Linked DNA regions of Homo sapiens. The protein of the gene in region 3 purifies or fractionates together with the protein of the main gene of each other region. This does not show direct contact. Each region holds a gene or a part of one and is shown on either strand. Other genes may lie near its edges. The genes, in order: FAM118B, TRMT44, MUC20 and FASTKD3.

What was found.
Region 1: the proteins of MUC20 (region 3) and FAM118B purify together in Homo sapiens (affinity purification with mass spectrometry; 2 studies listed by BioGRID and IntAct, with this or other methods). This does not show direct contact.
Region 2: the proteins of MUC20 (region 3) and TRMT44 purify together in Homo sapiens (affinity purification with mass spectrometry; 2 studies listed by BioGRID and IntAct, with this or other methods). This does not show direct contact.
Region 4: the proteins of MUC20 (region 3) and FASTKD3 purify together in Homo sapiens (affinity purification with mass spectrometry; 2 studies listed by BioGRID and IntAct, with this or other methods). This does not show direct contact.

The regions. Positions count from the first base shown.
Region 1 is NC_000011.10:126,249,765-126,256,797, reverse strand, and holds part of FAM118B (protein FAM118B), read right to left. Parts: intron 6,293-7,033; coding exon 6,065-6,292; intron 2,540-6,064; coding exon of another isoform or gene 2,494-2,539; coding exon 2,365-2,493; intron 1,648-2,364; exon of another isoform or gene 232-1,647; coding exon 1-231. UniProt on the Homo sapiens protein: May play a role in Cajal bodies formation.
Region 2 is NC_000004.12:8,436,856-8,443,776, forward strand, and holds the start of TRMT44 (probable tRNA (uracil-O(2)-)-methyltransferase), read left to right. Parts: upstream 1-3,921; 5' UTR 3,922-3,967; coding exon 3,968-4,586; intron 4,587-5,905; exon of another isoform or gene 5,906-6,083; intron 6,084-6,921. UniProt on the Homo sapiens protein: Probable adenosyl-L-methionine (AdoMet)-dependent tRNA (uracil-O(2)-)-methyltransferase.
Region 3 is NC_000003.12:195,717,074-195,723,992, reverse strand, and holds the start of MUC20 (mucin-20 isoform a precursor), read right to left. Parts: upstream 3,016-6,919; 5' UTR 2,986-3,015; coding exon 2,910-2,985; intron 1-2,909. UniProt on the Homo sapiens protein: May regulate MET signaling cascade. Seems to decrease hepatocyte growth factor (HGF)-induced transient MAPK activation. Blocks GRB2 recruitment to MET thus suppressing the GRB2-RAS pathway. Inhibits HGF-induced proliferation of MMP1 and MMP9 expression.
Region 4 is NC_000005.10:7,866,026-7,873,534, forward strand, and holds the start of FASTKD3 (FAST kinase domain-containing protein 3, mitochondrial), read right to left. Parts: upstream 3,007-7,509; 5' UTR 2,954-3,006; intron 2,175-2,953; exon of another isoform or gene 2,172-2,174; 5' UTR 2,059-2,171; coding exon 621-2,058; intron 1-620. Other genes in the region: MTRR (methionine synthase reductase), read left to right, coding at 4,770-4,898, 7,348-7,501. UniProt on the Homo sapiens protein: Required for normal mitochondrial respiration. Increases steady-state levels and half-lives of a subset of mature mitochondrial mRNAs MT-ND2, MT-ND3, MT-CYTB, MT-CO2, and MT-ATP8/6.

The DNA.
Region 1 (7,033 bases), on a different chromosome or scaffold from region 3:
ATCGGCATAGTCATCTCCATAGGAGATGACTTTAATCCCCTTGTCCAGCATGTTTTCTCGAAGCTTTTTGAACTCATCTACGTCTCCTCTCCGAACCAGCATGAAATGTTCTAGGTCAGATTTATGCTTGACAGCCTCCAAGAAAAGGGCCTGGAAAGTGGTGTCATCCACAGTCCAGCCACAGCCCAGGAAAAGAAATGACTTGTTTTCGTAGAGTTTCTGAATTTCTCTCTGGAAGGAAAAGATACAACATATTGACATTGTGAAGACACACTCAAGGCAAGTCTGAAACAAGAAGGTCATGCTACGTTGAGCAGACTGTGATGACCAATTAAGCAAGACTTAAGTGGGTTGGTATGTCCCATCAAGGAGTGTGATCTCTTGCTTATTGCTGTAACTTGATGATTGGTCTAAAATTTTATCTTTACCTGCCATTCTTCTGTAGGCTCTCTAATCAGCGTTTCATAGAGCTGGTGTCAGTGTACTGGTGCAGTAGTTTACTTCTTTATTTTTTATGCTTTATATATTTTTTGAGACGGAGTCTCACTCTTTCACCTGGGCTAGAGTGTAGTGGTGTGACCTCGGCTTACTGCAACCTCCACCACCCTGGTTCAAGTGACTCTCATGCCTCAGCCTCCCGAGTATATTACAAGTGTGCACCACCACACCCAGCTAATTTTTGAATGTTTAGTAGAGACGGGGTTTTGCCATGTTGGCCAGGCTGGTCTGGTACTCCCGACCTCGAGTGATCCACCCACCTTGGCCTCCCAAAGTGCTGGGATTACAGGCGTGAGCCACTGCACTTGGCCAGTAGTTTACTTTTTTATTTTTATTTTATTTTTGAGACAGAGTCTTGCTCTGCCACCTAGGCTGGAGTGCAGTGGCATGGTCTTGGCTCACTGCAACCTCCTCTGCCTCCCAGGTTCAAGCGATTCTCCTGCCTCAGACTCCCAAGTAGCTGGCATTACAGGCACCTGCCAGCACGCCCAGCTAATTTTCCTATTTTTAGTAGAGACAGGGTTTCACCATGTTGGCCAGGCTGGTCTGGAACTCCTGACCTCATGTGATCTGCCTGCCTCAGCCTCCCAAAGTGTTGGGATTACAGGCGTACTTTTTTAGATTTATGTGCCCAGAGGTCATTGTGCAAAGAGTAGGTCTTCATATATCTTAATCCTTCCATTTCTGGACCATATTTGCCTTTGTCTCACAAACTGAACTGTGAATCACCAGAGAAGATAATTCCATCATCGGATTTGCTCAAGGAAAGGCGTTTGATACTTAGAACATCAGTATGTGTGTGTGTGTGTATACATATACACACACAAAAACACAGAAATGACTGCCTAAGGGATCACTCAATGTCAGAGATGGATGCAGTTATGGCAGATGTTGGGAAAGAATGGGTAAAAAGAAAAAAAAGTCCCTTGTGCTTTAGACAATACATTTTCTCGGTCTTTTGCCTCATTATTAAAAGATGCTATAATCTATATGACCCAGTCCTGAAAACAGCAAACAAGATTCTTAGAGCTGGGGGCAGCGAATACTTCTGGTTTGAACATGTTTATCTGAACAAGTCGAAAATGTGCATCCCAAAAGATCAATAAGCTTTTCACAAAGAGTAAGTGTGAATAAATGTGGTTAATTCAATATAAGCCCATTGCCATTTATACAAAGTCTCTTTAGAATGTATTCTCTAGTAGTGGTTGGTTTGTTAAGAAGCTGCCTCAATTATTTCTGACACAGAGAGGGCTATTAATAAACCAAATGATGATAAAGGGTACTAATGTATCCTTTGTATGTGAAGATGATGCCAATGATGACATGCCATCTGCTGGTTGTCAATTAAGTACAAACAAAGATCATAGGGTTTGACACCTTAAGAGAAATTCTACATTTCCTAGACAGCATGCACACCCATAAGTTAAGAAGCACAGGAAGAACGTCTGACTTTCCAGTTTCTTTCTTTTTTTAGAGATAGGGCCTTGCTCTGTCACCCAAGCTGGAGTGCAGTGGCTCTAGACACAGCTCACTACAGCCTTATATTCCTAGTCTCAACTAATCTTCCTGCCTCAGCCTCCCAAGTAGCTGGGACAGCATGCACCATGATGCCTAGCTAATTTTATTTTTGTAAAGACAAGAGTCTCGCTATGTTGCCCAGGCTGGTCTCGAACTCCTGGCCTCAGGTGATCCTCTCCCCTTGGCCTCCCAAAGTGTTGGGATTATAGGCATGAGCCACTGCTCCTAGCCCCTGACCTTCCGTTTTCACTTAATGAAAAGAAGATGTTCCCCTTTAAGATCTATGGCATATTTAGAGAGATTTCCCAGGAAGGAGTTCCTGAGACCAGCAAGATCAGCCCCACTCACCATGACTTCAGTGTTCCTGAGCACGTTCTGATATCCAGCCGGATGAAGGACAATGCCACTAGGGTTGGTGTAGACTCCGTGAATATGCAACACGCTCAGCTTACGCTTCTCCTGAGCCCACTCGAGGACCTGCACAACACACATATAGCCCAACCAGCTTGGCAGGGCTGAGCACCTGTTTAAAGGTCACAATGGGCAAGAGGCTGTTTTGAGGACTAGACTTCTGACATAAACTCTCTAGCTTCATGATATAGGACAAGAATGCAAAACCTGATGTGGTCTAAGTTTCCACTTCAGGAATGACTGTCAAGAATGATGGCAACAAATTTGGTGATTTCTCTTTGAAAGTAAGCATCAAAAATCACAATTTGTCATAATTTGCAGAAACAACAGGGACCCTTTGCACTGGTGGCATGCATGAGAGCTATGGACAACTGCTTCAGTGATCGCCCCAAGAAATCAAGCCTCTGTATCCAGGCCCTTGTGTGGCCCCTCTTCGGAGTGACTCCAGGCTAACCACATGGCTTGCTTTTAGCCAATGGGATACTAGCAAACACACACAAGCAGAAGCTTGAAAAGTGTTGGCACAAGAAGTCTTACTTCTCTTGTGTTACTTTTGGAATCCAGCTGCCATGCGAAGAAAGTGAAGAAGCCTGGGCTAGCCTGCTGGGACATATATGGCCTGGCCAATTGCTTGCAGGGAAGTATGGTCCCCTTATATCACTCAGCCCTGGTGCGGCCATCAGATGTCTGCAGGTATGTGAAGAGGGTGCAAAAATCAGCAGAAAAAATGCCTGGCTGAGTCACTGAGCCCAGTTCAAATTGTTAATATACTTTATCATGGGCAGATAAGATATTTGTTGTTACAAGCCACAAAGTTTCACGGCCATTACTTGTACAGCAATAGATAAGTGATAGAAAAATCACTTCAGTCACCTCTGAGGAACCTAAAAGGCTGCCAGCGAAGAACAATCATTTAGACAACAGCGAATGCAATAGCCACCTGATTCCATGGCTCCATTTTCCCAAGGACTGGAGACAGCATACATTTATTCTTATCACATTTTGGAGAAATAGGCTATGAATCAGGAAAGTAGTCAAGAGGCACCGAGATTTAGAATTTGAATGTTACTAGGCCCCATTCTGACTACCAGTCAATGTCTTTAACCATTAGACTGCAACACTGCCCCTAATGTGGGCTGAAAATACAATGCAAATCTTGAGGCCCAAGGATGAAATGAGAAGGAAAACATCAAATGTGATAGATATCCTCAGCTTTTAAAAGGTCCTTATGCTTCTGATATCCATGAACACACTTGGTCATAATCTTTGGAAATTTTATCACAAATAGCATAGAAGCTGCTAGTTTTAAAATTTCAATCATTTGTTTGTTTGTTTTTAGACAGAGTCTTGGTCTGTTGCCCAGATTGGAGCACAGTGGCGCAATCTTGGCTCACTGAAACCTCTGCCTCCTGGGTTCAAATGATTCTCCTGCCTCAGCCTCCCAAGTAACTGGGATTACAGGCGTGCACCACCACTCCCAGCTAGTTTTTGTATTCTTAGTAAAGACGGGGTTTCACCATGTTGGACAGGCTGGTCTCAAAATCCTGACCTCAAGTGATCCACCCACCTCGGCCACCCAAAATGCTGGGATTACAGACGTGAACCACTGTGCCCAGCCTATTTATTTAGAGACATGATCTTATGCTGTCACCCAGGCTGGAGTGCAACAGTGTGATCACAACTCACTGTAGCCTCGACTGCCTCAGCTCAATCGATCGTCCTGCTTCAGCCTCCCAAGTAGCTGGGACCACAGGCAAACACCACCATGCCCGGCTAATTTTTAAACTTTTTGTAGAGATGGGGTCTTGCTATGATGCCCAGGTTGGTCTTGAACTAGGCTCAAGTGATCCTCCCGCCTCAGCTTCCCAAAGTGCTGGGGTTACAGGCCTGAGCTGCTGTGCCCAGCCCAATCATTTATTAATCAAAAAAATATTTACCAAGCACCTAACTGTCATATTTGAGACATGAGGGTTGTATTTGAGTTATGAGGGTAAGAAAGACTAACATGATACCTATCCAAGTGAAGTTACTATTCCTATGGGGTAAACAGTCAGAAAACAGATAAACAGCCAAGATAAAAACTGTGCTGGGTGTGGTGGCTCATGCCTGTAATCCCAGCACTTTGGGAGGCTAAGGTGGGCAGATCACCTGAGGTCAGGAGTTCGAGACCAGCCTGGCCAACATGGTGAAACCCTGTCTCTACTGAAAATACAAAAATTAGCCAGACGTGATGGCGGGTGCCTGTAATCCCAGCTATTCGGGACGCTGAGGCAGGAGAATCGCTTGAACCCAGGAGGAGGAGGTTGCAGTGAGCTGAGATCATGCCATTGCACTTCAGCCTGGGCGACAAGAGCAAAACTCCATCTCAAAACAAAACAAAACAAAACAAAACAAAACGGCCAGGCACATGCCTGTAATCCCAGTACTTTGGGAGGCTGAGGTTAGCAGATCACCTGAGGTCAGGAGTTTGAGACTAGCCTGACCAACATGGAGAAACCCCGTCTCTACCAAAAATACAAAATTAGCCGGGCGTTGTGGCACATGCCTGTAATCCCAGCTACTCAGGAGGGTGAGGCAGGAGAATCACTTGAACCCAGGGCAACAAGAGCGAAACTGTCTCTCAAAAAAAAAAAAAAAAAGCTGCAAGTTAATACTAAGTGCTACAAAGGAAACGGACAAGAGACTGGATAAAAAAAATAAGTATCCAATTTAAATAGGATGGTCAGAGAAGGTCTCTCAGGAGGGGATCCCTAGGTTGAGAGTTATAAATGAAGAAGGAGCTGACCATACAGAATATGAGGGCGTAGGCGGAAGACACTTGGACCAGAGAAAACTAGTCTTCATGGGGCAGCTTTTCTCTAAATTCAATTCCCTTTAAATCCTGCCATCAAGGTCAGCAAAACCACAAGAGTGGTATTTCAGCTACCACTCTGGCAGGGGCAATACTGTAGTACTGAATGCCAGCAGGCAAATCACTTGTCTATTCAACTCTACTTAGTTGGGCTCTAAATTGGACATAAAGGCAGATTCCTGAGGAAAACAAAGTGTAGGAAAAAACATTACAAAAATCACAGAGTAGGACCAATGAGACTTTAAGAACTCATCTCATTAGCTGACACAGATCAACATCTATAATTCAATAATTATGGTAGGTACAGTATAGACTATGCTAAAACAAAGTCTGCTGAGGTTTCCACTAAACATTAACCTCAATTCAGCCATCGCTTGGCCTGGAAGTTGTTCTTCCAATCAGTATAAAGTAGTTTTCATACATTTCCAATAGATGCCATAAAAAAAGGTATCCTAAAATAGAACCAGCATTATCAATATTACACCACTGAATACTGTCAAGTGCTAAAGAGATCTTACAGTTCAAGTGACTTCCTCTAATCTTGCTTTAAAACTGGATGAAATTGTCAAGAGTCATAGAACTGAACACTTTTAAGTTCTATGCATTTTACTGTATATTGATTTGATCTTTAAAAAGAAAGAAAAAAGAAAAACAAAAACTCCAACCAGGGAAAAAATTTTTCCTTTCTAGCTCTACATAAATACCAATATACCAACTAGAAAAGAGCTTTTCTGAGGAAGATAAAATCCACTAGCCTGAAGAAGGGACCAATGCTTTACTTTTTACCTTTTTCTCATCAGTAAGGTCAAGGGATTCAAGCTGTTTCCCCTGATCTGCTGCATACAGTTCCAAGAGATTATCAAAATTTGTAGTTAATACGAGGGCTCCATTTTCCATCAGGTGGAGAACTGACTGAAGTAGCTGTTTTCCAGAATCTTCCATCTTTGACTCCAAGTCATCAAATACTTCATATAAACAGTCCTTGAAAAATGTGGATCGAACATTACTGGTACGCTGAGGAGGGATTTGAAAAAAGAAAATTAGTCCAAAGTGCTTTGGTAGGTCAGTTGTTTTAGTTACAGCAGTAACAAATTTTGGAAGAATATTTTGAATTCAAAACAGAGATAAAGGCCAGGCGCAGTGGCTCACGCCTGTAATCCCAGCACTTTGGGAGACCGAGGCGGGCGGATCACGAGGTCAGGAGATCGAGACCATCCTGGCTAACACGGTGAAACCCCGTCTCTACTAAAAATAAAAAAAATTAGCAGGGCGTGGTGACAGGCGCCTGTAGTCCCAGCTACTTGGGAGGCTGAGGCAGGAGAATGGTGTGAACCCAGGAGGCGGAGCTTGCAGTGAGCCGAGATCGCGTCACTGCACTCCAGCCTGGGCGACGGAGCGAGACTCCATCTCAAAAAAAAAAAAAAAAATCCCGGGGATAAAATATTATCTATCTCATACGAACGTAATAAGGAAGATGAGATGATACATGCCAAGTGCTTAGCACAATGCTTAGCAGATAGCAAGTGCTACTATACGTAAGCTTCCTAAAATAGGCATTTTTATAGAATGAAGAAAATAAACCTGGCCAAGGGATATGAATTTACTGTCGGTATTAAAGGGAAGCTGGGGTACAAAGCAGAGCGACAACTACCCTCTCATGAGGTGCCAGGTAAGAAGGCAACACTTTCCGTTCATCTTGCCTTATGTAGGGAAACGCCACTGAGACACAGCCCTAATTGTGGTTTGGCATCTCCT
Region 2 (6,921 bases), on a different chromosome or scaffold from region 3:
GTGGCGGGTAGCTGTAGTCCCAGCTACTCGGGAGGCTGAGGCAGGAGAATTGTGTGAACCTGGGAGGTGGAGTTTGCAGTGAGCCGAGATCACACCACTGCACTCCAGCCTTGGCAACAGAGCGAGACTCCATCTCAAAAAAAAAAAAAAAATCAGCATATATATATATTCGAAAAAATATATATAAATATATATATACAAATATATGTAAATATATAGAAATATATACACGTAAATATATATATTTACATATATATGTAAAAAAATATATGTAAATATATATATAAATATATATATAGTGAATACTTCGTTTGTAAAGCAAGCCCAGGGTAACATCAAGCAGAAGCTACAGGCATGAATATCACCCAGTCTATAAAAGTGGCCACCAAGGCGTATGTTAGCTGTGACCAAGGAACAAAACAGGAAAGAGCAAAAGCAACAAGTGCGGCAGCTAGGCACGCCAAGGGTTAAATTCCTCTCCCCGGCTCAGCTCTATCTAGAAAAAAAGAGGAGGCTAGAGACCGGTGCCAAGAGAAGAGCAAAACAAAAAGAAAGACTCACAGTAAGTGTAAAAAAGAGAATCAGAAGAAAATGGGAGAGACAGCAGTGCGCGGGGGCAGGGCCTGTGCCACTGCCTGGCCCCGCCAGGTGGCCATAGAAGCAGGAGAACTCAGGAAGGAAAAAGAAAAACAAAGACTTAAGGAAAAAGGCCAATCTGTTAGCAACAGCTCTTATAAAAAGAGAGATTAGCAATGCGAGAGGACGTGGACACGGATGTAGACGTGGAAGAAGTCAAGTTAGGCAAGGATTCGAGAGCCGGCCAAGGCTAGAGAGACATTAATGTGTGAGATGAAAAAAGAAAGGACACTAGAAGGGTGAATGTTCAGAAGGCAATAAAAGAAATGGCCAAGGCTGCAAGACAAAGAGGCCATTGGCCAAGGGCTGCCGCACCTTGGAGGAACCAAATACTGATCTGATCAGGCTGGCAGGAGCTAAAGAATGTAAAGACTAGGGCAGACTAGGCACCTTCTTATTAGGCTCCCAGGAGCCCATTGTCACATTAGAAGTTAAAAGCAGCAGGATTCTGCCATATCTGGATTCCAATTTCTCACTGATGGCTAAGCCACTAGATAGAGTTACAAAGGGGGGAAAGAAAAAGAACCCCTCCTCTAAGAAACTTAAACAGGAAAAAGAGCCATACCTTGTGAAAACTTGCTTATAGACTTTACAGAACTGCCTCATGCTGGAGGCTATCGGTACATGCTAGTGCTTGTTTGCACCTTTCCAGGGTAAGTTAAAGTTTTCCCCACCAGGACAGAAAAAGTACAAGAAGTGACTAAAGTATTGTTAAAAGACATTATCCCCAGGTTTAGACTGCCTCTAACTTTAAAGTCAGACAATAGGCCAGCATTTGTAGCTGAAATAGGGCAGGATTTAACAAGACTGTTAAAAATAAAATGGAAGTTACACACAGCCTATTGGCTGCAAAGTTCAAGAAAAAGTGGAGTGCATGAACTGGACACTCGAGCAGCTACTGAAAAAAATATTGCCAGGAAATTCATTTAAGATAAAATCAGGCTTTTGCCTATGGTCCTCCTTCAAGTCAGCTGCACCCTCACCAAACAAACTAGGTATTTACCCTATAAGATTTTGTTCGGTCGGCCACCCCCAAATCACAGGTCAAATTAAAGGTGACCTCCAAGAACTAAAGGAATTAACCTTAAGAAAGCAAATGCAGATTTTAGAAATAGCCATACAAAGTGTTTATAATTAAATACATAAAAATGCCTATAAGCCTGACACCCCTTTAAATCTAGTGACTCTGTTTAAGTTAAAAAGTAAAATCTAATTTTTCTAGGACCCATATAGGATGGGCCTTATACTGTAATCTTTTCCACTCCCACTGCTGTTAAAAGTTGCAGGTGTTGTGTCTTAGATCCATCACAGTCAGCTAACACTGGCAGCTCAGGACAAGTAGACCAGCCAGCAGGACACAGATCTTCCTACCCGGCTGATTCGGAGACGAGACCAAGCTGTTGCTGAGGACGACAGCCCTGCTCTGGTCACTCCGGAGGCTGACCAGTCTACACACGGCTGAAGCTTGAAGAAACAACAAGCCCGGCTCTAGTCACGCACTGGCAGCTGAATAGTCTACGCATGGCCGAAGCTTGAGGACTTGTCAAGCAAGTAAACGTAGTTAAAAATCTTAAGACTAATAGTTTTCCTGTAATACTGTTTTCCTATTGTTCTGTCACTGTATTCAATCTTTTTCCCAGGTAAGGACCTCTTTTGTCCTTGCTGGATACAAATATGCTGTATATTGTTTTGTTATTGTTACCCCCCATAACCATGCTAGAAGAAACACCTATATAAGGTGTCCCCATTGTACACATACTACTTAGTCAGGAAACCCAGACCCGTCCAGCCCAGCAACAATTCCGAGTCTTTAAGTCATTCTTTAAACACATAAACCAGAAGTTACAAGAGCCTCCTCCTTTAGCAAAACAAACAAACAACCTATTTGCTCAGCTGGCTGAAAACATTGCCAGCAGCCTAGACGTTTCTTCATGTTATGTTTATAAAAAGGCTAACATGAGAGACCAATGGCCTTGAGAAGCAAAAGATTTAATGCCTCAAGATTACTTTAACTCTTTCCCCAAGCAGATGCCAAGTTCAAGCATTTGGCTCTTAAAAACTCCTATTATTAAGAAATACTGTGTTGCTTGCTAGGAAAAAAGCTTTTAAGACCCAGTAAAAAAACTAACCTGCTTAGGACATGACAAAGTTGGCACATGTGCCTGTACTGGTTTAACACAGGTTTGATCCTAGGTCTTTATTTAAAAGATAGTTTCCAGCTATAAGAGAATTTAAAACCCTCACTGCAAGTGTATTACATAAAACACTATCACTCTGTCTCCCAAAGAGACTCAAAGTAAAAATAAAAGCGAGAACTCCCACTAATTTGTGAAAATTCTCAAAGGAAGGGATAAGGAGACCACTACTACTCCTGCTGCCCTCCTCCCTGCCACCTTGCCTAGTTCATAAGACAGGAGGAAAAGAGAGAAAGCAAAAAGTTAGAAAGAAACAAAAGTCAGATAAATAGCCAGACAACCTTGGCACCACCACGTGGCCCTAGGAGTTAAAAAAAATAATAATAATAACATCAACCCCCGACCTAAACTACTTGTGTTATCTGTAAATTCCAGACATTGTATGAAAAAAGCATTGCAAAACTTTCTGTTCTGTTAGCTGATTCATGTAGCCCCCAGTCACGTTTCCCATGCTTGCTCAATTTATCACGACCCTTTCACGTGGACCCTTAAAGTCGTAAGCCTTTAAACAGGCCAAGAATTTCTTTTTTGGGGAGCTCAGCTCTTAAGACGCAAGTCTGCCGATGCTCCCGGCCGAATAAACCTCTTTCTTCTTTAATCCGGTGTCTGAGGAGTTTTGTCTGTGGCTTGTCCTGCTACAGTAGGTGACAGATGACTTTCATCCCTCATGGGACAACGTTACATCATTCTTATGAAACAGCCATGGCTGCACTCAGACTTAGGAAGGCACTGGCTGTAATGCCAGCACTAAAAGCAAACCAGAACCCAAGTGGAGAAAAGTTAGCTTTCATAAGAGGACTCATCTTTTACGTTCACAAACTTAGGCTCCCTGACTTTTATCGGTAATCAGTACTGAGGACAATGCGTTCCACACCCGCTGGCTGGCTGATGTTTGATTCTGTAACTATACCACGCCCAGAATTCTCTCAAAAGGGAATAAAACACAGGTCAAATTCCTCACCCACACACTCCACAGTTCAACCCCTGCCAGGGAAACCAAAAGCAGGAAAGGATCTCCAGCGGCGCCATTCTCATTTCCGGTCCCAGCACCCCGCCTCCATGACGTCAACGCGCCGCGCCACCGGGCTGCGTCATCTCGGCGCGCCGCTGCCAGGGCTGTACACCTGCTGGCTGCCATGGCTGAGGTGGGCCGTACCGGGATCAGCTACCCAGGCGCGCTTCTCCCACAGGGCTTCTGGGCTGCGGTCGAAGTGTGGCTGGAGAGGCCGCAGGTGGCAAACAAACGGCTTTGCGGCGCCCGCCTGGAGGCCCGCTGGAGCGCCGCCCTGCCCTGCGCGGAGGCCCGCGGCCCCGGGACTAGCGCAGGCTCGGAGCAGAAGGAGCGGGGTCCGGGACCCGGCCAGGGTTCCCCCGGAGGGGGCCCGGGTCCCAGGTCGCTATCAGGACCCGAGCAGGGCACGGCATGTTGCGAACTTGAGGAGGCCCAGGGCCAGTGCCAGCAAGAGGAGGCACAGAGGGAAGCCGCCTCAGTGCCCCTGAGGGACTCCGGGCACCCCGGCCATGCTGAAGGAAGGGAGGGCGACTTCCCCGCCGCAGATCTGGATTCGCTTTGGGAGGATTTCTCCCAAAGTCTCGCCCGTGGCAATTCGGAGTTGCTGGCCTTCCTCACCAGCTCCGGGGCGGGATCGCAGCCAGAGGCGCAGCGTGAGCTCGACGTGGTTCTCAGAACCGTCATCCCGAAAACTAGCCCACATTGCCCCCTTACAACTCCCAGGAGGGAAATAGTCGTGCAAGGTAAGAGTGTTTTGATAGTGGACGGATATGATTAGATAAAAAAGCATTCATAGAACCTCGGGTCAATGAAAAAGTCCTAAGGGTACTAGTTCCTCTGCGATGTCCTAGGGAGGTTGTTAGGTGTTTCATAGTTTTTTGAGTGGGCGCATAGAAATGTGTGTCCTTAGTACAGAAGATGGGATAATTGATTGGGGTGGTGTCTGGAAGGCTTCAAAGAGACAGTGAAGGACTAGCTGGATATTGCGTAATACCTAGGAGTTTAGCAGGTAAAGCTGTAGGTGTAAAAGTGTTGGGGACCAGCCTCAACACCACCCGTAGGGTACTCAAAGTCCGGTGGCGACGAAGGAATGAGACGAGACAGGTTAAGAGTGCATAAAGATTGGGGGCCAGGGGGCCAATTGCAAAATGGAGGCTGCCAAAGCCTGGGAGCTCTGGTCTCCACACTATTGAGTACAATCACTTAGATCTAAGAAGCGGACGTTCGGGGCGAAAGGGTGAAAGGGAGACAGTGCATCATACATGTCATCTATAGCAGTGGCGGTTTAAATGAATCTCCTTTGTGCTCAAACAGCGTTATCTTTAACTTGTCGGAGAATAACCAGTGGGAGCGTGCTTAACTAGGAGCCTGCATGTCTGACCACATTGTAGTGATTCAAAGGAGTGTCTTTCTCCTTGAACACAGTGTTTATAGGTAAGACAGTAGGTCTCGCCCAGAGCATGGGAACATCATGACAATAAGAAGGCTTTCCTCCTCAGAGGCCTCTTGTGGCTTTCCACAACTTATTGTCTCATATTTTTATGGCCAGTTTATACAGGCATGCCATAAGCCTTTTCCCCAACATAAAGAGAGCTATTTATGCTGAGACAAATAACTGTGAAAGAGCATAGAGACTGGATGGATGGGAACCTACTAGTCCTCAGCGTTCGTTAAATCTCTGGCATTTATTTTTACTGCCCGTGACCTTGACACTTCAGCCTCAGCCACTCTTACCTGAAACTTTATTCAGCAGCATGTGTTTCGTATTGCCACTGTAACAAATTACTGCAAATTCATTGGTCAGTACAAAAAATTGATTGTCTCAGTTCTGTAGGTTAGGAATCCCCATTGGCTCTGCTGGTTTCTCCGCTGTGGGTCTCTCTCACGAGGCCAAAATCAAACAGCCTGCCGGCTGGGCTCTTATTTGGAGGTTCTGGGAAGGAATCTGTTCTCAGGCTCATTCAGTTCGTTGGTAGAATCCAATTTTTTATGTAGGACTGGGGTCCTTGTTCCCTTGCTGGCTGTCAGTTGCTGGAGGCTTCTTTCTGGTTCTTTCATGCAGCTTCCTACATCTCAGAGCCAGCAATGGGGTTGAATTCTTCTCATACTTGGAATCTCTCTGCCTTCCTCTCCTGCTGCTTCTCTCCTCCGCCTCCAGCCAGAGAAAATTCTCTGCTCTTCGTGGCCCATGGAGTTAGGCCGGGCTCACCTGGATAATCCAGAGTACTCTTCCTCTTGAGGTCTGTAACCATAATCATGTTTGCAAGTGCCCCTTTTGCCATATAATACAGTATATTCACGAGTCCTGGGTATTACGGCATGGACACTTTTGGGAGGCTCTTCTGCCTACCTCAGGCAGCAATTGCTGGGAGGTACATAGTCCCCTCTGATGGCTCCCAATACTGTCTGCCTCTGTGCCTTTGTAAGACTCTAGGTGTCCTCTCCTCCAGGGGGCCTCTCTGCCAGTCCAGTCTAGTTTAGGAGTTCTTCCAGCTCTTATCAACTGTGTTCTAATCTTAACCATTTTACGTTGTCCATCCACTGGACTGAGGATTGGAGAGGCAGTGCCCGTGAGGCCTTCATGTGTAGACTTCGCTGAACAGAGGGGTAGGACAGAATTTTTTCCTTTCTTCCTCTCAGGGAGGCAGTTTTCCCTCTCAACAAGGAGTACGTTTTCAGGATTGCTTTCTATATTCAGTTCCCGCCAGGAAGGCTCACCAGAGGACTTGTATCCTCCATGGAATATAGACAGCCTGGCTTTGAATTTTGGTCTTGCCAATTACAAGCTGTATGGCTGTGGGCAGGTTATAGAGCCTCTCTGTGCCTCAGTGTCTTCATTTGTAAAATAGGATAATAATAAAATATCTTGGAGTTGCTGGAAGAGTTAAATGGAATTAATACATTGTAAAGTGCTTAGAATAGTTCCTGGCACATGGTAAGTGCCTAATAAATGCTAGCTGCTGTTTGTGTGAAGTGGAGATGCTCTTGCAACTTTTGTATATTTCTTGGCCCTATTCTGGGTAAGATCACGAAGGTCTTAAGAGTAATGTGACTGTTCGAGACCAGCCTGGCCAACAT
Region 3 (6,919 bases):
GAGACCCTGAGGCAACACCTAGCTTTTCAGAGAGCGGCTGCCAGCACTTCTGCCCAGAGCAGAGGCCTGTTCCCTTGACTGGCCCTGAGGTGGGAGGAATGGGAGTCCCCGAGGGAGGCTACGGTAGGATATCTTCCCTAGAGACAGGGTCTTGCTCTGTTGCCCAGGCAGGTCTTGAATTCCTGGGCTCAAGCGATCCTCCTGCCTCAGCCTCTTGAGTAGTTTACTACAAGATCTTTTCTGGCCTGAGAAAGGGGGCCTCCCCTGTCTAGAGGGAGATCGGGCTCTCCCTGTGAGTGGGCCAAGGAGCCTCTTGGAGAGGGTTTCTAGATTTAGCAAATAAAAATACAGGGTACTCGGTTAAATTTGAACTTGCATTTCAGATAAACGACGAATAACTTTTTAGCATGAGTATTTCTCATGCAATATTGGCTACATACTTACACTTAAAAAAAATTGTTACCTGAAATTCAAATGTAACTGGATGCCCTGTGTTTTATCTGGTAATCCCAGTCTTGGAAGGAAAAGGATCAAATACGAACCCCCTAATTCTCTGAGCCTTCTTGGTCCAGCCTACACAGCTGGAAGCCCAAAGGTGGCGCTCTTGGAGTCTGACCTCCCCTGGCACAGGGTTTGAGATGGTCTTTACCCAGCTCCACTGGCCCAAAAGTAGCCCATAGACCCAAAAGGGGCCTAGCACCTCTCCCCAGGGCATCAGGATGGGGCCCCAGGTCCCCAACTGGTTGTCCTGTGGACCTCAGGGAATGACGACGCAGGAGTCAAGAGCCTCGGTTGCAGCTCCCGCTGTGCCGCCCACGACTGGCTCCGGGGTCAGATGATCTGCTGGTTCAAATCCTGACTCAGCCTCCTACTAGCCAGGCCAGTCTCTAGACCCCTCCCAGCCTCCATGTCCTCACCTGAGAAAACAGGGTCACAATACCTGCCTTGCCAACGTGATGAGGACCAGCGGAGAAGGTGAAAGGGCTTATATTCCAAAGCCCACAAGGTAAGCATCCCTCCCTATGGAGTCCTCTCCCAGGCCACTGGAAAGCACGCATAGTTGATCTGACTATAGTGAGGAGTGCGGGCTGCACCCCCAGGCAGTATAGGCGAGTCCCGGGCACCCACTCTCATCCCTGGTCCAGTGCGGCCCAGCTGCACACACAAATCTCACTTTTGCAGGAACTGTTCGTCTGCCTTCATAATACAGTTTCTTCTCCCCACTTCAAGCCTGAGATCATTTCTTTGAGCCTTCTTGGTCCAGCCCACACAGCTGGAAGCCCAGAGTGGTGCCCTTGGAGCCCGACTTCCCCTGGCACATTTTCTGGCTTATCCAGGAGCCCCGGGGTGTCCTTTCTGCTGTGAAACCTCCTCATGCTCCCCAAGCCCACAGCCTCTCGGGTCCAAGGGGGTCTTCTCGAATACAGCAAATCCCAGCCCAGCCCCTCAGTAGCTCTGGAACACTGCGGCTCTCCTGGTACAATCTTCAAATCTGGTGGAGAGGAAAGCGTGTGGACTTGGGACCCTGAGTTGGAGAATCTGCTCTCTGCCCTGTGACCCTGGCCAAGTCTCTCAGCTCCAAGCCTGCATTTCCGCACCTGTAAGGTGGAGCTAACGGGACACGTGCAGCGCAGACCAGGCCACGGTGAGCACAGGCAGGAGGCCACGGGGTGCAGTGCTCAGGCCTGTGAGGAGTCAGATTCTGGCTCCGAGGAGTTGTTACTGGATGCCCAGAAGCACAGTGGCCTCACCCTTAAAGCAGTGGAGGTGGGGGGTGGTAAAAACAGGGCCGATCTTGCAGGGCCGTTGTGAGGATTAAAAATACAATGTATGATAATGATGCATCAAAGTAGGTTCCTCAGTCCTATCAAATGTGCCACTCTGGTGGGGGACGCTGATGATGGGGGAGGCTGTGAGTGGTGGGGATGGGAACTCCAGACTCTCCACTGCAGCTTTTTTTTTTTTGAAACATAGTTTCACTTTTGTTGCCCAGGCCAGAGCGCAAGGGTGCGATCTCAGCTCACTGCAAACTCCACCTCCCAGGTTCAAGCAATTCTCCTGCCTCAGCCTCCCGAGTAGCTGGGATTACAGGCACCTGCTACCACCCCCGGCTAATTTTGTATTTTTAGTAGAGACGGGGTTTCTCCATGTTGGTCAGGCTGGTCTCGAACTCCTGACCTCAGGTGATCCACCCACCTCAGCCTCCCAAAATGCTGGGATTACAGGTGTGAGCCACCACGCCCGGCCTCTCCACTCGAGGTTTAGAGGGAGCATAGAACTAAAAAAAAAATAAATCCTTTTCTATTTTTTAATGTATGTGATGAGTTTGGCACAACTCCTATTAGCGACAGGTCAGGGTTCATTCCCGTCTTTCACAAAAGCCCTGCCTGTCAGCATCCACCCTTCCCAAGCAGTTTGTGGCAGTTGGACTTTTCACACGAAATCTGTATTTTGAAGGAAATCCATGCTAGGTAATAAACTGGGAGGAGTCAGAATCTTGTTAAGCCACATTCTTCAGCTTTCTGCACAATGATCACCAGCTGGCACCTCCCTGCACCCCCGCTCCGTGCCCCACTTACTGTCCCACGTTCATAAAGACAAACTCTCAGCCATCCCTTACGATGGCAGCGTCATGGTTGATTAGCGTGTACTGCAGCGCCAGGCACGCTTACACTCACACACATCGTCATGGTTGATTAGTGTGTACTGCAGCGCCATGCACGCTTACACTCACACTGTCATTTGCACACTCTTTATCAACAATAATAGCACTTCACAAGTAGCACTGTGGTTCATTATAATCAACCCGAGAGAGCCTGCCCTTGCCCATGAAGGGTGGCTCATACTGAAATTCACTCCCAGAGCCCTACTAGGGGAGAGGCCCACCAGGCCCTTCTAGGCCTCCTTACCTGCAGAGCTCCCAGAGACCCCAACCTCCCAGCAGAAGAAGAAAAGGGGCAGAGCCAGACCCCAGAGACAGCCCATCCTAGCCGGCCACCGCTGCTCCACAGAACTGCTGGCTGTCTCTCGCGGGTACCTTTTCCTGCTTCCTCAAACCAGGGAGGAGGGGCAGCCTCCTGCCCAGGTGTGTGACCAGGTGATCACAAATGTGCAGGCTGAGGGCTGGCAGGTTGAGGCTGTCAGCAAGCTGACCCCCCTGCCTTCCTTGCCCGGTAAACACTCCACTGAAATTTGATTTGAAGATATGGAATCACTAGCTTCTTTTTTTTTTTTTGAGATGGAGTCTTGCTCTGTCACCCAGGCTGGAGTGTACAGTAATGAGATCTCAGCTCAATGAAACCTCTTCCTCCCGGGATCCAACAATTCTCCTGCCTCAGCCTCTGGAGTAGCTGGGATTATAGGCGCGCACCACCACGTCGGGCTAATTTTTGTATTTTTAGTAGAGATGGGGTTTCACCATGTTGGCCAGGCTAGTCTCAAACTCCTGACCTCAGGTGATCTACCTACCTCAGCCTCCCAAAGTGCTGGGAGTACAGGCATGAGCCACTGCACCCAGCCAAGTGCTTTTATTTTCTTAAGCCAATTAATTAGAGCTCTTTTATATATTTTCAGTAGCAAAACACTGTGTACACAACAACACATAAATACACAGATGTATTAGGTATGCTGAAAGAAGTTCATCTTATAGATTCATAAAGAGCTTTTTTCTTACACCTTCAAATTCTTTTTTACTTTTTTTTTTTTTTTTTTTGAGACAGAGTCTCACTCTGTTGCCCAGGCTGGAGTGCAATGGCTTGATCTCGACTCACTGCAAACTCTGCCTCCTGGCTTCAAGTGATTCTCCTGCCTCAGCTTCCTGAGTAGCTGGGATTATAGGCACCTGCCACCACATCTGGCTAATTTTTTTTGTATTTTTAGTAGAGACGGGGTTTCAACATGTTGGCCAAGATGGTTTTGAACTCCTGACCTCAAGAGATCTTTGCGGCTCAGCCTCCCAAATGCTAGGATTACAGACGTGAGCCACCGTGCCCAGCCACACCTTCGAATTCTTGATAACCTGTTTTACTACTCTAAGCGGTTGTCAGCTAAATAGCCTTGAATTTGCATTTTAAGGAAACTGAGGTGAAAATCGAATAGCAAAATTTACATCATAACGTATGGAGAGAAAAAGTCTGGTGTGCTGGAGGGAAATTAAAACAGATTTAATTGCCAATTAAACATAAAATTATAGAAATTATAAAGGCCTTTTAAATATATACACACACACAAAGATCCTATAGCTTTTACTTCAGAAATTTAGCCATGAAAGCTGGGCGCGGTGACTCACGCCTGTAATCCCAGCACCTTGGGAGGCCGAGGCGGGCAGATCACCTGAGGTCAGGAGTTGGAGACCAGCCTGACGAACATGGAGAAACCCCATCTCTACTAAAAATACAAAAAATTAGCCAGGCATGGTGGTGCATGCCTGTAATCCCAGCTACTCGGGAGGCTGAGGCAAGAGAATCACTTGAACCAGGGAAGAGGAGACTGTGGTGACCCAAGATCACGCCATTGCACTCCAGCCTGGGCAACAAGAGTGAAACTCTGCCTCAAAAAAAAAAAAAGAAAAAAAAAAAAGAGAAAGAAAAGAAAAAAAGAAATTTAGCCATGAAATAAATACAAATTCACCAGTTTACAAACAGAAAAACTATCTGATCCAAACAGTGTTTTTTATCTTAATAGAAAAATAACAGCAAATTTAAAGCAGGCAGAGAAGAAACTAGAGAAAAAAGAGGACTCAGGAACTCTACAGTTTGCAGGTCAACCTCAGGGCTCCTTTTTTTTTAATGTAAATGTGCAGAAAGACCATATTACTTCCACTTTACATAAACTCTGGCAAGTAGAGGCGCCATGAACCCTATGGAGTACTCGGCTGGGAGGAGCAAACGCCCTTTCTCTTTGGAGCTGAGAAAACTCAATCTCTCATTTACCTATGACAACAACAGTTCAGTTCCTCATGCAAATACATAGACAACCCAAACTGAGATTCATTTTGGGAGAAAAAGCAATAGAGAAGACCCTTTAGGATGCATCTCTGAACTAGAATTAGGATCCTTAAATCACAGCTTCCTAGAAGAGAAAAAAAAAAAAACAAAAAAACAGCCAAGACCATTCCCTGTAAACTGTGCTCAGCCACCCCTTCTTTGTAGTTCTCGTCTGCCATTACACACGCCAAGGTCAAATCCTCTCACAGTGCAGGGTCATCTCTGGTTCCCCCAAAGCCAAAGAGGTCAGGTCATGCCGTACAGGAAGACAGCAGAGCTTTAGACCTAAGAAGAATCCGCCCATCACTCTTGAAACTCCACAAAGAAAACAGAGCACCCTGGAAGGGGTGAGTGGCCCCTTTGTTCCGGATCCTTTAAAGGGGCTCGAGTCATTGGAAGCCTTCTCTAGATTTTTTTGGTCCCGCAGATGGCAAAGGCAGGAGGAGGTATAGGGAGGAAGAAAAGTAAGTGAAAGAGCATTTGTTGTTTTTGTTTGTTTGTTTTTTAAGACAGAAAGCAAACACAGAAACCAAGCACGTGATTTGTTGTTTTCGTTTAGTTTTTTCCTCTTTTGCAGCTGCAAGGAATTTTAGCCAAATTAGAGAGGCTTTGTTACCCATAATTTGGAATTCTCACTTGGATTTGACCAAGTCAGGTAGAGTTGGTCAAATCTGATGAGAGAAAGACCAGAAAAAACAACAACAACAAAAGTCAAATGATATGACCACAGACTGCTCTAATGGGAAGAAGAAATTCAGACCAGCTGGTTGTTAACCTTCAGCCAAGACAAAACCTCAGTTCAGCTACTTACCTAGGGATGGGTCTCAGGCTGAAGACTGCTCTCTACCATCCTTGAAGCAGGAAAAAAACTCGAACTTGTCTTCCCTGCTGGGAGCAAGCTCAAACTCCATAAAAGAGTTGTCAGCCTTCCATCATCACGGACCCAGGAAATCTTGCCTTCCTTCTTGGAAGCAAATAAAACTCCAAAAGAAGGAGAGGGGGAGTTGTACATCAAATAAACTTTAGATCACGACCAAGTTTTGAGAGATCAGGGACTCTATGGAGGGGGTGCTCCCAGACCTCAGCAAATTGTCCTGTTGGTTTGAGCCATAAGGTTAGCTCATGGTGCTACCAAGCACCAATAGATCTGTCAAAGGTCAGGGGTACCTCAACTCAGAATCCCTCCATGGTTACCAAAATGTGAACCCCCCAAATCTGAGACAGGTCTCAGTTAATTTAGAAAGTTTATTGTTCCAAGGTTGAAGATGCACACCCGTGACACAGCCTCAGGATGTCCTGACGACATGTGCCAAGGTGGTCATACGTTTTAGGGAGACATGAGACATCAATCAACACATGTAAGATGAACATTGGTTCAGTCTGGAAAAGGCCGGGCAACGCCAAGCAAATGTGGGACAACTCGCAGCCAGGAGAAAGCTTCCAGGTCACAGGTGGGTGAGAGACAAAGGTCGCATTCTTTTGAGTTTCTGATGGGCCTTTCCAAAGAAGGCAATCAGATATGCATCTATCTCAGTGAGCAGGGGGTGATTTTGAATAGAATGGGGGGCAGGTCGGCCCTAAGCCATTCCCGGCTTGACTTTCCCCTTTAGCTTAGTGATTTTGGGGGCCCAAGATTTATTTTCCTTTCACAAAACAATAAACATAACAAATAAGTGAATTATAGAAAGGTGAAAACTATGGAAAAAAAAGAAAAACAGAGAGAAAGAATCCTGAACACTGACGTGGGGAGGGCAGGTGCCAGCTGCAGTACTAAATACTGGTGTGGGGAGGGCAGGTGCCAGCTGCAGTACTAAATACTGGTGTGGGGAGGGCAGGTGCCAGCTGCAGTACTAAATACTGCTGTGTGGAGGGCAGGTGCCAGCTGCAGTACTAAATAGCAGAGGGGAGGGCAGGTGCCAGCTGCAGTACCAAAT
Region 4 (7,509 bases), on a different chromosome or scaffold from region 3:
GGTATGTATGAGAGAACATCATGAACATTCAACATCAATTTACACACTCCAGACAGAAGTATTCTATTTTTAAATGACACTATGAAATGAACTTGTTAGAATTAATTATGCCCTCCTCTTGCCACCAATGAAATTGACTTCCAAGAACCCAAGCTCCTAGCTACAGAATACAATTAAAAGAGATAAAATATGTTCACAGAATTAGTGGAAATTTCCTTTAACTATGGAGTTCCGGAAATTTGACATATTTGGGTGGCCTTGAATTAAGATGAATAATACCATCCTCTCAAAAAAAAAAAAAAAGATACAGTTGCTCACTCATCAAAAGTTCTAACATGTTAATGTGGCTATTTCCACTGCCATTACCATATCTCCTAAGAATGCTGCAATTTCTCAGATAAGGCAAAAGTCAGTTTATCTGAGACAGCTTTCTTCCCTCTACATGATTTCCTAGCATGCTTTAACTGTGTTTATGCCAGCATCTGTTAACTTCAGGTCTCATCTTCGGATCACTATGGAAGAAAAACTAAAGGCAACATATTGCCTTTATATGTGACTTGAAACCACTGCCAGTTCAAAGGTTACTTTTTTCCAACTGTCAGAATTTATAACCAACTCACCTTGCAGCCGTTGAAGGAAAAGAGGCTTGAATATTTTTGCCAGAAAGTTGACTGGATGGCATTCATTAAGTGAACATGAATGAAGAAGTTTCAATAATGATTTGGGTGGAAAATAATTGAAATGAGTGAATAGCACGTTTTCCAGCTTTCTAAATAAAGCAGAGGCATTTGGTGGCAAATAATTGAGTTTCCCAAATGGTTCCATTAAGGCAGAAATCTGACGAGGTGAAAATTTTTCTGTTTGGCAAACAAAAGTTTCTGCCACTGCATTGAGGATGGGTTTTGAAAGAATCAGTTCTCTACTGCAGTACTCCATGACCCTGCAGACAACTTCAGGATCCAACGTGAGGCACACCGCAGCTACACGATGCTCTAGGGCTTTTGTAAAAAATGTGTCATGGTGCCCAAAATATATGAACGCCTCCAAGACTCTCCTAAGCTCCTCGTTAGTGAAATGTGGGACATGCCTCACGACATATTTGCCCAATTTTATAATCAGAGGAAATGCTTGACTTTGATCAAGAACCACCAGGGCAGTGAGCATTTGGCTAATCAATTTAGGACTCAGGTTGGAAACTATTGATAGGGAAAAGTTGTTTATCTTATTTAAAAATGTTTGGTGTTCATCCACTTTTTCAGTACATGCCTGCAAGATTCTATAAAGGGCCACAATATCCTCCGGGGTAAATGTTTCCAATTTTTCACCTTGAAGTTGATTTATAATGAGTTCTAGTGTCACACAACCTGAACTGTGCAGTGTAATCAGACTTTCCCCAAGAATACAAAGATTGCGAACTTCCATGCCACCTTTTCTGAGACGATTTTGGCATTCTGCCACCAGGTTCAGCAACAGGCTACTTTGAGGATCCACATGCAACAGAATCAGAGCTTGCAAAGCAGTCACTAAACTAGTGTTTGACAGCTGTGAGGGCTCCTTTTCAAACTGAAAGCATAAAGCTTGAAAGATGCTATTCTCCAGTATTTCTTTTGGCAGCCCTTGATCACCATCCTTTTTTTCCACTTCACAAATTCGTTGTAAAGCTCCTGCTGCCATAGTGTCAGGCAGGGTTTCCATCGTGCTTATAAAACTTAGCACTTCTTCTGATGAAGTCAAGTTGCTCAGTCTCCTGTAAAACATCTGACTCTCCTCATTTTTAACATTTTGTTCAAGCCTGTCGCAGTCAGATACTTGAGAGAACACTGGTCCACCGAGTGGATGAAGGTCATTTCCATTTTTCGAATGAAACTTTTTACAATGGGCATGATGGAATTTGACCCCGAAAGGCTCAGGTTGTCGTGAACACAACCAAGGGCACAGACGCTCCTTGACTACCTTGTGAACATGATTTAGAGGTTTATTTTTTAAAGCAGCCAGAGCTCTATGCATCTGAAAATCAGATAAACGATAAAGGTTCTTCCTCAAGGTGATTAATGCCATACCATCAGATTCTCAATTTGATAACTAAATTAAAAAATTTAAAAACACATGGTTAAATACATTGAGAACATGATTGACCCAACATCAATGTTTATGAAACTACAAACGAGTATCTGGAAAAAAAAAAAAAAAAAAAAAAAGGATGGTTAACATATAAACACCAGAGGGGCAAAGTCTCTGCATCCTAGAGTTAGAAGAGTGGCTGACATTGAACAATAACAATCGCTATTACTTGCTAAACACTGTTGTAGGTATTCTATTAACTTACACAGATTCAGTACTTTTACTATCATTTTACACGAGGAAGAAGTTGAAGCACAAAGTTACTTTGCCCAGTTTATGCAGGTGGTTAAGTGGCAGAGCTAGGGTTCAAACTCAGGCAATGTAGCTCTTAAGGGTGGCCCTTAAATGTTGGTTGAAGGAAGAAATTGCATTTGGATAGAAATCAAAGAACAGGTAAAGTGGGCAAAATTAGGCGAGGTTAGAGCAAGGCAAGGGTAAAAACGCGCTGGAAAGGCCCTAAGCTGTTGGTTTCCCCTCGGTGTCGGGAGAAGGTTAGTGTTGAAGGAAAGGGTCTACTTTGTCAATGGAAACAAGGTAGGAAAAGAAAAAGCAAAACATAGATCAATGAAGGGAGAAGGTGGGGCGGCCAGTCCAGATCTAAAGACGGTGCGGGGGGATTTGGCAACACGTGTGTGCAAGACAGACAGACGGGAGGCCCCGCGGCGCGTTTTCCTAGGAATGAAAGGGACCCGCGGGGCGAGCACCCCCAAACTCGGCGCCCCGGGGACCTGCGCTGAGACACGGGCCGGGCGGCGCAGCCTGAGGAGAAAGCCGGCCAGGTCTTTGACACCCAGCCGGACCAACTGCGCGGAGACCCCGCGTTGACACCTACCGCGCTCTGCCGGGCAATCACTCCGGGTGGTCGCGGAAGCGCCTGGGCGTCGTGGGCCTCCGTAGCAAACGCGGGGCGGGAGCACGACTCAGGGCGGCGCAATGTGATTGGCCCAGGTCCCCTTCGGAGCTTTCTATTGGTCCTGGGTACCGAGCATGGGCGCTGCGTCAGTGCGCGCTGGCGCAAGGTTGGTGGAAGTCGCGTTGTGCAGGTTCGTGCCCGGCTGGCGCGGCGTGGGTAAGCTGCCTGTCGGCTACGGTTCCCGGATTCCGGCCGCTCGCCCTGCACTAATCTCCTGGGAGAGGCGGCCCGGGGCGGGGGTGGGCAGCCGGCTTGCGCCCGTGGTTCCCACGCCCTTCGGCCTCCGGGGGTCGCCGCGGGCGCGGGCTGGGGCTCGGACTTGGCCTTTGGCCTTTGGCTTTGGTGTCCCCGGGAGCGTGTCCTTGGGCTCGGCGTCGGCCTCTGCCGCGGGAGGCCCCTGGGCGGCGTGGGGTCTCTCCTCATGTTCTGCCTTTGGTTCTAGGCGCTTTCCAGGCCTAGGGAAACCGCACTCGGGGACGCGGGGAACTGGGGAACATGCCGGGTTGGGGCGGCGCGCTCCGGGGAACCCGGGACGTTCCGAGCGCCCACCCGGCGGGACGCGGCCGTGAGTTCTGCCCGCGGCCGTGAGCTCTGCCCACCGCCTCCGCGCCGCTTCCGGGGCTGCTGGGGCCCGGGCCTCCGCTGAGAGTCGTGGGAAGGTGGTGCCGGATTGTGGGGCAGTAGCAGGGATGAGGGGTTGATTGATCCTGGGAAGCCCTCAGGATGTGTGTTTCATGGGAAGTGATAGAAATTTTAGCTGTAGTAAGGTTTTCATTATCGTTTCCACCGTTTTCTGTGAGCTGTCAATGTGTAGTGTTTTCATATTGTTTATTCACTCATTCAGATAACTTATCGAGTACCAGTTTCATGCCAGGTGCCGTTCTGGGCGGTTCATTCACCGAAAGCCAAGCTTTTGGTTTGGGTTTCAGTTTAAATCTGTCTCTGCAAATTGACAGCCCACCAATTTTAGCCGTTAGATGAGTATGGAAAAAAATCTGTGAGTGTCGTTTGTTTTACTACTGCTTATCTCTTGCGGAAAAACGTGTTAGTAAAATGTTTAAGTGGATTGGAAATATTTTTTCGTTATATGCACCCGTTTGTATATATGCCCATACACTCACATATTTTTGATTTGCATTAAATAATGAAGGAGAGTATGTGCTTCAGTTACCTTTAGTACTATGATTAGTTTGTTTAGCGTTAGGATCAAATAAGAACCAAGAATCCTATCATTTTAATATAGTTTTTACTTTTATCTTTTTTTAAAAAGAGGAAACCAAAAGCTATTTAAGACTGTTGTGAATGATACTGTGGCTCAAGTTTTGTTCAGGTTCTTGGCTTGTGCCACATCGTTTTTCAGGTAGGTGGTAATACTCTCATTTTTAGGATAAAGGAGCTGTGGTACGGATCATTTGGGGAGCTTGTCTACAGGGTTGCACTTAGGAAACACAGATTCAAGCCCAAGTAGTTTCGAGCCGATCATCTGATTTCTGAGCCATGGAATTAGAGTTTCATTCGTACACTCTCCTTAATTTGATGAATTCTTATTTAGGCTCATTTGAGATTAGTGCTGAAAACAAATTTAGAAAAGGCCATTTCATATTATGTGTGGGTATTGTTGCATTGTTTCTTAAAGATTGAGGGAGAATTAATATCTTTAGGTTGTTACTGCTTCATTAAAAAGAGGATCTTTTTTCCCCCATTTTTCAGTTTCACTGTTACATGCCTTGAAGTGATGAGGAGGTTTCTGTTACTATATGCTACACAGCAGGGACAGGCAAAGGCCATCGCAGAAGAAATATGTGAGCAAGCTGTGGTACATGGATTTTCTGCAGATCTTCACTGTATTAGTGAATCCGATAAGGTTAGAGCCGTTACAGTGGATTTTACCGTTTTGTGCTTTGAAGAATTTTGGTTGGGAAGTGATATTTATGAAACAAAAGGACACTAATACCACCACATAGTCTTTGTTTTTTAACAGAAATGTGTTTGTTCAATGGTATAGTAAGATATCACCAGCATTTTTTTAATATAGAAGTGTGTAGTTGAATTAGACTAAATGGTCTCAAAAATTGAAACAAGTAACAACTCCTTAACTGTAAATGACAGAAGTAGCATATGCTGTGTCTGTTTCACAGGGTGGCTGTGAGAACAAGTGAGATGTGTGTTTGCCTGCTCAGGTGTGCTTTCCACCTCTTGAATCTCAGTGTCCCACTTTTTTCCCCAAAAGAAAGGCCTTGCCGTGCGTGTTAGAGTTCCTCCTGATGAAGGACCGCCTAGATTCTTTTGTGAAATAGAATTTAAAGTAGTAGTGTAAGGATCTGGAAAAAACTCGGCTGCTTCTTCAGGGACTAGTTGTTTATGTTCAGTCTCTGCAGAAGTTCCTACCTTAGGGTATATGCAACTTTACCATCTTGTGTTCTTTTATTTAGTTTGCTGCCTCCAGATTATACTATTTCAGACAATTCAGGCGATAACAGTTGGCAGGGGCTTTATACCACAAGATGATTTGCCAGCCGCTAAGCAGTTAAAATTCACTTCAACATTTCAGAGACTGTCCTGCCAGTGCTCTCTCACCCAAGTGCACAACCCTCTCTGGCCTTTCCTAAAACTCCAGTTCAGAACACTAGACTGTGTGCAGCTCAAGTGAATTATAAACCCAGCTCACGGAAGGAGACTCACCTAGTTCCTTTATGCAGCCCTGCCACGGTAACTCTGGACACCAGAGAAAAGGGAGCTTCCTGGAGGAGACTGCCAGTCAGCAGACTCTGTCATTCTACAGTAACTTAAGTTCAGATTGCAGTGCCACATGATGAAGTATCTGAATCTGTTACTTTGGACAAAACCAAAGCCATCAGTATCATAAAACTAGTCCTGATTTGGCCCCTTGTGGTTGACCTCAGTAAGTTGATCAGCAGGTGTTTTGGCAGTCAGATGAATGGTGAATTTTTTTTTTTAACACCAAGATAGTCATGCTATTTATCCTCCCTGGCTGATGGTTTCGTCTAGCTGTTCATAATCTAATATCCTTCCTATTTCACATAGTCCTTTTCAAGGTACTGACATTACTTATACAAACTCTGTATGTAGAGTTTAACACACAACTTACATAGAGTCTTGGAAGCATTAAATACTTCGGTAAAAAGTTAAGTTGTTACCTCTTTTATCAGTGTGAAAAATAAGGTGAATTATTTGGAGCCAAATTCGATGGTGTTCATGGGCAGTAAAGCTTGTGGAGTCTTACAAGTAAGACAAGGAAGTGTTCTATTTGAAATACTTAAATTTACACGAGAGTAAGAATAAAGAAACTTGATTTGTAAGAGTTTATAGCTCAGCTTATAGCTAATGATATTCTCAGAGTTAAGACAGTGAAATGCTCTATATGAAATATTTAAACTTACATGAGAATAAGAATAAACTTGATTTGTAAGAGTTTGTAGCTCGCTTATAGCTAATGATATTCTCAGCTCTCTGGAAACCTGAGGGAATGAGCGGTTCTTGATAGCCAGGTCCCTGATTTAGAAGGGGTAACACTTTTAATTTCCCAGTTTTAAAATGCCCTGTTATCCCTCTGCCTTAGTGTCACATGCAGTACACATGGCTGGTTTTATATTTTGCTGAAGATTTCAGAGCTGTTGTGTTTTTATTGCTGTTTTTCTTTACCACAGTATTCTACTTGTTGCTTCCTTGTCTTGGCATTCTAATCCTGAGTGCTTATGTATCAGTTCTCTTTATTTCTGAGTCTCCCCATCCCCATTTTAACACCTCTTTCCTTGCTTTTTTTTACTTTCTTATGAAAAGACGTTTCCACCCAGTTAGCTGCTGTTCCTCCTTGGCAGCTCATCACAGTGCCTAGGTGCCTCATCTTGGCTCTTAGCAGTGCTGATTTGCCTTGCAGATTTGAGCTCATGTTAATGTTTGGCCCATGACTCAGTGGCAAAGAGTTGACTATATCCTATTTCCTCTGATTTTTCTAAAAATGAAAGACTGGGACTAGATGGAAACCTGGGATGGGTACTGTCTGTGCCTGTCCCTGCCTTTCGTACACAACATGAAGAGAAAGACGTGTTAATCCCCCCCAACCTCTTGATGAGCATCAACAAAACAGACGCATGGTTTCCTTGAATGACATCCTGCATTAGGCAAATTGATTAAGCTGAGAGCGCCTAGTCACTGGACTGGTCGTCTCAAAAAAACTGGCAAGGAAGAAGATTGAAATACAAGACAGGAAACTAAGCTGATTGCTTTGCTGCTGAGTTAAATCAAAAATGCATGTAGTGTTAGGTCCCTGACTTGATATCCTTGTTTTGTAGTATGACCTAAAAACCGAAACAGCTCCTCTTGTTGTTGTGGTTTCTACCACGGGCACCGGAGACCCACCCGACACAGCCCGCAAGTTTGTTAAGGAAATACAGAACCAAACACTGCCGGTTGATTTCTTTGCTCACCTGCGGTATGGGTTACTGGGTAATGGA